Linked DNA regions of Homo sapiens: region 2 is linked to region 1. A link means that fine-mapping ties the variant in region 1 to the expression of a gene that starts in the linked region. Tissue or cell type: gastroesophageal junction. Region 1 holds a variant in brackets; the other region holds the start of a gene. All regions are shown on one strand. Distances are between the middles of the regions. Region 1 overlaps DPP10 (dipeptidyl peptidase like 10). Region 2 holds the start of DPP10 (dipeptidyl peptidase like 10).

What was found. PIP is the estimated chance that this variant, and not a neighbour inherited with it, causes the effect.
Region 2: it holds the start of DPP10, and the variant in region 1 is the best candidate, but not a certain one, in a credible set for the expression of DPP10 in gastroesophageal junction (GTEx, PIP 0.68).

What each region holds. Positions count from the first base shown.
Region 1 is chr2:114,776,039-114,781,038 of GRCh38, reverse strand. All of the region lies in intron 1 of DPP10 (dipeptidyl peptidase like 10), which reads right to left. Among named protein-coding and RNA genes, the nearest start is that of DPP10-AS3, 55 kb to the left of the region's middle. The variant T/C (reference allele first, on the strand shown) is at 2,575.
Region 2 is chr2:114,439,257-114,444,768 of GRCh38, reverse strand. DPP10 (dipeptidyl peptidase like 10) reads right to left here and starts at 2,128. Exons shown (of 26, transcript NM_020868.6): 1 at 1,931-2,128. The coding sequence starts at 1,990.

The sequences.
Region 1 (5,000 bases):
GGAGATGTTAAACACATTTCTCATCTTCTGAAACTTGAAGCTTATATCCTAGTAGGAAAGATATGACAAGTACATGCAAATTAAATGTCTCATTCACCATTCTATTCACAGTAACTGACAAATGATATTCAATAGAATAATCTTCCCAATCAGATTGTAATGCTCTTGACTTAAAGACTGTCTCATATTCATTCTCAACATGTGCAACATTTTCATTCATGATACTAAAGATAAAAATTCATTAATTTAACTAGGTAGCCTACTAATTTAAAATATTCTACTCATGTCAATAAATCAACCAATCAACTAGATAAACATTTAAGATATCTTAAATGCAATTTAACAAAATTTCTTTCTGATAATCATAATAATGCCCTTTAAATACCAAACAACATTTTTGAGGAATGTTGTATCTACATAAATGCAGTTGTAATTTAATAGTGTGTTATTGTAATAATAGCTATTGTAAAATTTAAATGGAATTTAGTGATAACAAATAAATAAATCTTGTTTTACTATATAAACACATTGTTCACAGCTATCTTGAACCTAAATTCCTTCCAGTACCCTAAAGAATTAAAATAATGATTCAGACTTCTGAAATTAGATTGGAACTTAGGTTGGTGCTTACTTTGACTAACTGTAAGTCTTTTAGATTTTCCAAAGAATATAAAGATCACACATGAAGGATATTTCATGAGAAAAATAAGTATGATAATTTGTCACTTGTTTTCTCAAAACCAAGCTATCCTATTATTTGATGGAGTTAGATGAGTTAGATGACAAAAATACTCTATATCATCACAACAGTTTTGTCTGCATTATCATATTTGATCCTGTGAGTAAGGCAGGGAAAATCAATCATCCCTCTTTTCCTTCCCTCCTTTCCCTCCTTTCTTTTTTGAGACGCAGTCTCGCTTTGTCACCCAGGCTGGAGTGCAGTGGTGCAATCTCGGCTCACTGCAAGCTACGCCTCCCGGGTTCACACCATTCTCCTGCCTCAGCCTCCCGAGTAGCTGGGACTACAGGCGACCACCACCACACCCGGCTTATTTTTTGTATTTTTAGTAGAGATGGGGTTTCACCATGTTAGCCAGGATGGTCTCGATCTCCTGACCTCGTGATCCGCCCGCCTTGGCCTCCCAAAGTGCTGGGATGACAGGCGTGAGCCACCGTGCTCAGCCCCTTCCCTCCTTTCTTATGTTATCCTCATGAGAAAATGTTTTTGGAATTTTTGATAAACATGATCACAGAAGCATAAATATCTAAATCCCACCTGATAAAATAGCTGTACTGGCAGCATTTCTGGGTCTATCAGGTTACTTTAGCGCAAGGTTGGGCATCCTTAACACCAGAATATTATAAAGGAGGGTTATCACAGGTCAGGGCTGGTCATGAACAGACCATGCAATCAAATGGGATGAAAGGTCAAGTTATGTTGGGATATGAAAAAGTCCTCAGCGTAAACTGATATCAGCTTAGACCATATCAAAATTAGCAGCTTGTATGTAAGAAGTCAATCATTACATTTTATAAGATATGACGGGAATAGGTCCTCTGAAAAATCAGGAGTCCTCTGCTACCCTAGATATGAGATAACTTTGATCAGAGGTGGTTTAGGACCTTGGGTAGCTCTCAGGGAGCTGGCTCTTGTTCTGTTAATAATAAAAGCCATACTGAACAAACATATACCTATGTTTATATTGATGTCTATATGCAGACAGAAAATCTCAGAAGAGTCTGGTTGCCTGTTTTTTCCTCATAGTTAGCTTAATCTTTATGAAACACAAACCTCTTCGTTCAGATGAAGAGCATTTAGTGTCCACATCCACATCCAGGAGAGAAAGCCAGGTTATTCTGTGTAGTCTGGAAGTTTCACAGGGGTATACACTGATGAGAAGGCCTGACTGCAGCAGAGGAACTCTGTCTGCTGCAACACGGGATTACTCAGGCCCCAGAGGTACCAACTCCACTGGACCAAAAATAGAGCCCAGGCATGTAAAGCTTAAGACCATGAACTCTCAAGACAGCTGCTTTCTGGCATTGAATTAACTAGGGTGCTACTAATTTTTACAGTAACCATAAAGGGGAGAATAGATTATACATTATTTTTTATAACTAACATGGGATTGTGACACCATTAAGTTGCGCTTTGTCTTTCGGTCAATTAAATTCATAATTTATTGTAATATGCTAGAACCCTATGGCAGAGGCTGGCAAGACTCATCAAATCCATTTTATCTTCCATCAGAGCATATAGGTGGACTACATTTTCTGGCTTCCTTTGCAATTAGGTGCAGTCATGCGACCGATTTTAAACCAGTAGGATTTTTCATGGAAGTGGTATATACCACTTCCAGGCCTGGTTCATGTACTTTCCTTGCAAGCTTCCATGATTTCTTTACTATTTTATCTGCCGGTCAGATTAACGGAGTCAGTGGTACACTCCAAGACTCTAGACTTTAACAAAGCCATTAGATGGATGAAGCCTGGAACTCTAAATAATTGCGTGAAAAAGAGACAACCTTCCACCCAAGCAAACTTAAGTTTACTGTAACATAAATAAGAAATAAA[T/C]ATTTATGTTGGTAAGTAACTAAAATGTGAAGCTATTATAGAAATTAGCCACTGTGGCTAACGTTATAGGACTAATAGATATTTTTGAATATGATACATATGATCAAATCACATTTATATGAAAGTGCAGGTCTCGGCTATGAGCCATGACACTTGAGTTTTAATAAGCCAAATGTTTTGCATATATAATATACTTTAGTAACTTGCATTTTGAAATAACCTTCTTGACCCAGAGAGTAAGACTCAGTCTATCTGTAAGTGTCATCCCTTAATATTGCTTAAAGATGATAATGATTAGGGTAATGAATGATAATGATGATGCTAATACCTATAATAACATTTCATTTATAGCCCTTCTTAGTAATGTATTTATTTAATTGTCTCACTCTTTCTTGGACATGTTTAAGATGATTGCTATTATTCCCATTTTAAAGGTCTTGAAACTGAAATCCAGAATGTCAGCTAACTAATGAAAGACACGACAAATTCAAATTTAGATCTTCAGATTATTGACCCTAAAGTCCATGCTTTACCACTACCCTACAATTATTTAAGCAGAACCTGTCATAAAATTGCGGATATGAGTCTAACTTAAAGAACAGTGAACTCTTTGACTATGTAACTTCATAGAACTTACTATAAAGCATCTTGGTTCTGCGGCTCAAAGGATTTCTGTTTAATGATGTCATTACCATATAGCCAGGACATAACACTGCATTTAAGAGATGTAAAGTAGTCATTTAAACATTTACTGCTTTGGGCTTCATATCTATTACTGATAGAAGCTTTGAGATGAGGATTTAAATACTACTTTATATTTATTTCTTAAGCTCAGCCACAAAGCATTTTCACACGAGACATTCAGCAACTCTGAAAGGGCTACTTCTTCCCAGCCATTTGCATTTGGTCAAACTTCCTTCTTTCCTTGCTGTTTATGACTGTAACAAGTGGCATAATATGAAGGACTGAAATAGGGAGGTTGCCAACTTTTCAAAACTTTTTCTGGAAGAAATATAATTTAGTAGGAATAATATATCCAAAAGTAATACTCAAAAAAGGGCCCTGAAAACCCTCTTCAGAAATGTATGTGGGTAATATATTTCTAAGGATTGTGATTTGTACAGTGCAAAATCCATGGGCAGTTCAAAAAAGTTGGACCAGGAAGAAAGGAAGCCATTTCCAGCACAAGACAGTGTTTCCTAGGCTGCAGAATTATAAGGTTTGAATGTGACTTGTTGGTCTTCCTGTACTCTTTTCTTATTCTAAGAAGAGTTTCAAAAATAAATGAGAATATGGTTATAAAAAACAATAAAATATACCCATTCTCAAAGAGTACATTTCATTTACTTCTGAATAAAAGTCTTAACATATGTAAAGCCTGTATTAACTGCTTTTAGTCCAATAATTGCAACTATACACTATATAATGTATATATTATATAGTTATGTACTACATGGTTTATAAAACATTTTCATATATCTTTTTTATTTTTGAAAAAGTATGTTTGGCAGAAATTCTTATGCCTTCTTTTTTTTAATTATGAGAACACTGATCCTTAGAAAGTCTTTTTGGCTACCATTATCTTCTCTAATAATTTGATTTCCTTTTCAAAACTCACACTGCTCAGAGAGGTGTCTCCACTCATCCCCTTTTCCAATACTCATCAATTCAATACTCATCAATTCTTATAATCTGCACTAACTTTATTTAATTTAAATCACTACAACTTGAATATGTGACTTTAAAAATTACTCTAATGTAATTTATCCAACAAATTTTTTGATCTTTTTTTAATGTAGTGTTTGTCAGCTCCCACCATAGATGACTTCAAGCTGCCAAAAATTTAACAAATGGCTCAAAAAATGTTGTACATTTAACAATATTTCTTTTGAGCCTATAAAAGCCAAATTCATCACACTACTGGCAGTGTTCACTCAGATCTAGCGCTAGCTCCTAAGGAGCTTATGGCCTGATAACGGAGATTGCATTCAGTAGAGAAAAGCTAGGAGTCTATTTTCTTTGACAAGGTCTTGGAAGCTCTGGAACCTTAGGTATGAATGTAACTGTTTTTTCCTTCTACATAAGCAGCAAAGGTCATTCAAGCAGAGGAGATAGTGTGTTCAAAGGCATGGATGCATGGAATGCCATGGCATCATTCTATATCCAATGTGCAGTGGGAAGGGCTGTCAGAAAAGAGAGTTCAGCAGGCCTCAGATCATGGAGGTTTGTTTGTGTTCTAATTGTTGTTCAATTGTTCACTCAATTGGATCAACTACATGACAACTAAGATGTATCTGCAGCTAATTTTACCTGTAACACTTTGTCTCTTTATTTTTATCTAGAGCTATATCTAAAAATCAGTGTATTTTCCCATCATATCTTCAAAACTCATTTTGTTTTTCACCATCTCTGGGAAGACATTCTTG
Region 2 (5,512 bases), 340 kb after region 1:
CAAATTACCCAGAGCTTTGATTCAAGATTCCTTCATTAAGCCATTAATATAATACATTGTTAAGTGGTGGGTTGTCCAATTTTTATGATACTTTTCATTTCAACTCAATGGCTGCAGTTAGAAGGAAAAAACAGCATCTGCAAGATCAGCAAGATGATGTAAAACCTCTACACTAGAAACATTTTTTTTTCTGTTCCACAGTTTGTTTGTGGGCAGCCAATGCCAGAGCACTAATAAAGGAAGTGATTTGAAGTCTCTGAAAGTAGTAGTCATTTATGCTTACTCAATAAAGAAAAGGGAAAATAAATGCTTGATTCCTGTGACCTCAGACTCTTAAACAGAAAGCCACTGGTTTTGTTATAGCATTCTAGACATACTTAGCAGTAGGCAGCCAGTTTGTAACTCTATCCCACTTTAGGCTTCAATACATATTTCCCACTAGAGCTTATATATCCCAATGTAGAGTGTCATGTATTTACTATTTTGGCTTTGTTCAGTGATATGCTTAGATAATTGATGTATGTGGGAAACTGATACACAGAGGAAAACTATACCAAAAGCTCAACATTTTTTATTTCTAAACTTAGATACAGCACAGAAAATCTAATGCTGAAAAAGATTCTCATATCTGTTATTAGAGGTGGTGTAAATTATCTGAATATGAGTTCTGCATGATTTCAGTTAACTCCCTATGTTTATGTATGATGGGAATCTAATTATGCATCATTTAATATACCCTGGAAACCCCATTGCTTTTAAAAGTCACTGCTAATAAATAGAGGAACATGTTTAGTTTATGGTTTATCTATCACTGAAACACTCTGGCAAACGGTAGGTAAATTCATGAAGAAGAGACATTGTTGAAAATTATATTCCTTTTGTAATTACAGTCTATGCAATATTATTAAAGGCCTGAGACATAAACCAAAACATAATATAAATCATAAAAAGTCAGGCTTATCAGGAATAGTAGCAAAAGGTATGCACTTGTATGTTAATGAGAGATTGCAGTAACTAAAGATGCCCTGTCAGGATATCACGTTTTTTGTTTTAGTTTTTTTTTTTTTTTCATAAAAGAGTTTCAGACGAATCCATCACTTTCCCTCAAGATGCAAAATATCCACATAGATAATAATACAATTCAAGTAAATGGCAAAATATAGTAAACTTTGATTGGAAGTCTGGTCGTTTATAAGCCTTCTTGGAAATAAGAGCATCCCGAATAAAAACAAAGAGAATGGTATAAGCATGACTTGAAACTAAAACAGAAGAGTGAAATTGTGAGTTTGTTCTTTACCTTTAACCATGTGCTGTCAGAAAAGCCTCAAATTTTAAACAACACCTGCATTGAAGAGTGTCTCCAATCATCTCACTGGTTTTGAGTTACATGGTGATATAAATAAAGACATGTGATTTTATACTCTCTCTCTAGTCTTTCATCCTCTCTCACTATAATCACTTTAGTATAACCACCAGTTCAATGCTCACAATGAAGGATGAGCTTTTTTTAAAAAAGGATAAGAGATCCAAAATTCATATGACAATGAAATCCTGTTATCAGATTTGTAGTCAATTTGATGCTATTTATTTCTAGCAGTTTGCAAATTCTTCCCCAGTTCTATCAAGAAAATTGGCATGGACTGGAAACTCTTCTAGACACTCACAAAACTTTCTTCTGGAAATATACCTCTGATAGATTCTCAGTAAAAAAAAAAAAAGTCATGAAGATGAAAGAAGTGTTCAGTGGAAACTATTCTTTCCAGTCTACACACACATGCAGAGCCAAATGCTTTATTGTGACTCAACCTTCAATTCAAACTCAAATCAAGTAGGTATGTCCACTGTCAGTACCCCGATATATCAATGCCCATGTGTTAGGTAGATGAATGAAGACACATGTGCAGAAGCAGAGGGAAAAACCAGATCCTACCTTGATTGTTTTTGAGGGTTGACACTTGATGTGATGGGACACGCTGGCAGTTTGGTTCATGTTTCAGGACCCTGGACAGTGCACAATCCCAGGCGGAGTTCCAGAATGAACTAGAGATCAAGTCTCCTCTATTGGACTTCAGTAGGGGCTGCTGCTGTTGCTGCTGCCGCTGCTACTGCTGTTGCTTCTGCTGCTTCTGTTTCTGCTGCTTCCTCACTCCGGAGGCTGAAACGCTATCAGATTGGAGGAATCTGTATCTCACTTAGCCCTAAATAGAGCATTTACTTGGTTCATCAGTCTCAAAGCTCTTGGCAATATGCAATAGAAAGCCAAAAACGGTTTAAATTCACTTGCAGTGTACCTTTTCAGTATGGAGATGTGACAGCTCCACAGTACAGCCAATGATCCTGGCTCTCATTCCCCTTTCAAAGGGACGAAAACCAGAAAACATACAGAGATCAATTGCAGTCCTGCAGTTTAAAGGGGCACTCTCAACTCCTCTGTCTCTCCAGATTATAGTTTTTCCAGTGCAAAATATTTCTCTCTCTCTCTCTCCCTCTCCCCACCCCTAACCCAGTTTAAAAAAAAATCATAACATCCTCATTCTGTTACTAAATTTTATTCCTTCCTGGGTACTTCTTGCAATCAAAACACAAGTAAATGCTGTGGAAAAAAAAAAAAAAAGACTGTTGGCAGTTTCAGAATTTGGGGGTTTTATATCTATAGGTTGAAGGACTGATATTCCCTATGGATATTTTTAAAATTTAGCCATAACAGCCAGCCAAGAGACTGTCCTTTCTGTAAGGTGGCAGAAAGCTTAAGGTATATTTAAAAAGTTTTCAAATACAATAGTTATTGTAGTTTTTGGATATCGCACCAAAGCTAGACAATGTTTTTATTTTCAACCTTTATTTTTGACCATTGCTTTCCTTGAAGCCGTATTTTTTGAATGCCTGGGACAAACTGGTAGTTAGCTCATGCCAGTCTAACTCCCCAAATGGTCACCTCTCTGTCCCTAATGTCATTTTAGGCAAAATAAATTATAAATATTTGTAAATTAAGTTTTCCGAGTCACCAGTCCCCATTGTCACATCAACACTAACTAGAATAAATATATCCTGGTTGGAAATAAGATCCAGTAGTCTTGAGTAAATGCAGGACACTCTTTTCCAACTTTTGTTGCAAAGTGTTTGATGTTGAAAACCAACAGTATTTATTCATCAGAAATGTATCCTACTAATGAAATGCTAGGTTTATAAGATTGAACTAACGAACTACATTCAGGAGGCTTTTATGAACAGCCTAAAATATTACAGATAAACTTTAATGTGAAATGAAATAAATTAATGTTTGGTGAAATTAATTTATACATAATTATAAACACATATTTTCTCTTGTAAAACAGAAAAGGGATCTAAACATTCTGACAAAGTAGTCTGCACATGTTTGAGGATGGCTAAGTTTCAGAAGGTTATAGTTCTGAGTAGCAAAGTGGAGGTAAGGATGTGACAGAAGTAAGATCAGACTGTTTGCAGCCACAAAAGTTAATGGCAAGAGTATTGGAGAAATCAGGAGAATCATGGGAAAAGAGATGGAGCCAATAAGAACCAGGCAAAAGGCTGTGTGCAAGAATCTGGTGTAGCAATATCCAGGCATCATATTGAGCACAACCAGAGGCAGCCATAGGGCCAACAAATCTCATGATTTGAAGTTTACAATTCTAAATCACAAATGTGACTGGAATTTGTGGCTTATCTTGTATTTTGCTTGAATAGCATTGCTTTGAATAATTCATAAATCACAAAAAGAGTATATTAAAAATGTTTAAACATTTTGTATTCAACAATAATGAAAACAACACAGAAAATTTGCAGTATGCAGCTAAATCAATATTTAAAGGAAAATGTATATAATTAAGTACCTATACCAGAAATGCAGAAAAGCATAAAATTAATAATTAATAAGCTAATTATTCATATCAAAGAGTTGGAAAAAGAATGGCAAAATAAACTCAAATAAATTATAGGGGGGAAACAATAAAGAGAAGAGAAGAAAGTAATGAAGTAAAAAACATACAAAATACTCAATGAAAAAACCTATGAACATTTCATCAGGTGGTTTACAGTTTGATAATCTCTGAATAAATGAATGTTCTATACCAGTAGAATTGGCTTAATTCCTTTCTTAGATAGCACTTTGTACTAGGTATCTAAGAAACTTCCAAACTAAATTATCTGGGGAGCCCAGGGAGGGAGAGCAGTCCAAGAGTTCAGAGTATCCCATCCCCATCAAAGAACTGTACAGGATGGAAGGAGCCACTAGTACTTCAAGGAACCCTCTCCAGGCACATTGATAGAGACAGCATTTATATGCCTACCACAAAGAGGGTATGAGTTGCTGGATTTCTACAACTATAATCACATGAGACTTCACCCCTTTTCTACAATTTTTCAAAAAGGTTCTACCCCCACCTGGATGGCAGCAGGATCCAAGAAAGATATTGACACTACCATTTATAGGTAGGTGGCCAGAATCCACCTAAAATCTTTTCCCAAAGTTGCATTTTGAAAATAGAGAAAAATCACAGTAAGAGAAAAGAGTGCCTCGTATACACCATATGCTCCCTTTCCAGGCTCCACATTATATCAAACTCCAAGTTCCAAAGAAAAATCAAGTGTTCAGAGCAAAACATATGACCCAAATCTCATTTTGGATTTTGTTTTCCCTTTCTGTTATATTATCATTTCATGAATCAAGGAAATGAAAACCATAGTAATTTTTAAACATTTCTATTTAAAACATGTATAAATTGTTCATTATTTTGTAAAATCTGCTGTATCTTAATGTAGCCAATTGGAATGTACAACTAGAAGAAAATAGAGACCAAAGAAATTTAGACAAGTGCTAGAGAATTACAAATACCGCTTAATAAGGATAATTCATATACATTTCTTCTAATTGGGATATATTGGGCTCAATATGTTTAGAATGAAAACAGCTGCAAAATTGCATCACGGTTTGTCACATGGAAGTAGTTTTTTTTAAGGTTTAGATCTGCTGAAGAAACACTATACAGTAAATCATACTGAACTAGAAAATTTAGACAATTTAGTCCAAAGGACCAATTTCAAATGTAATCAACACTTATGATAACCGTATAAAAATATGTTGTTGTCAAACAGTTTGGGAAAAGTTAGGAGTGAGTCCCTTCCACCTTTCCCACAAAAAAAATTAAGATGGCTAACGCTTTCAGAAAATATAACCCACGATGTTCCTTGACCAGCTATCATTTGATCCGGGAAATAGAAATTTAGGATGGGGTTAATGAAAATATCCCATTAGAAAAAAAAAAAAGTCAAAGTGTCAGATGGATTCTACTACCAATTTCCGTCTCTTTGTTTCAAGTCCCATCTGCCCAAGCCCTAACTAGCTGGTCACAGTGATGACCTACAGATTGCAAAGTTAGGCAAGCCCAGGCCTCTAGTCAATAAGAATGGTATCTGAAAGGATATTGGGCTGTTTCCCTGATTTTTTTGAAATCTACTGTAGAAAATTCAAATCCCTCCATGACCATTGAGGGAT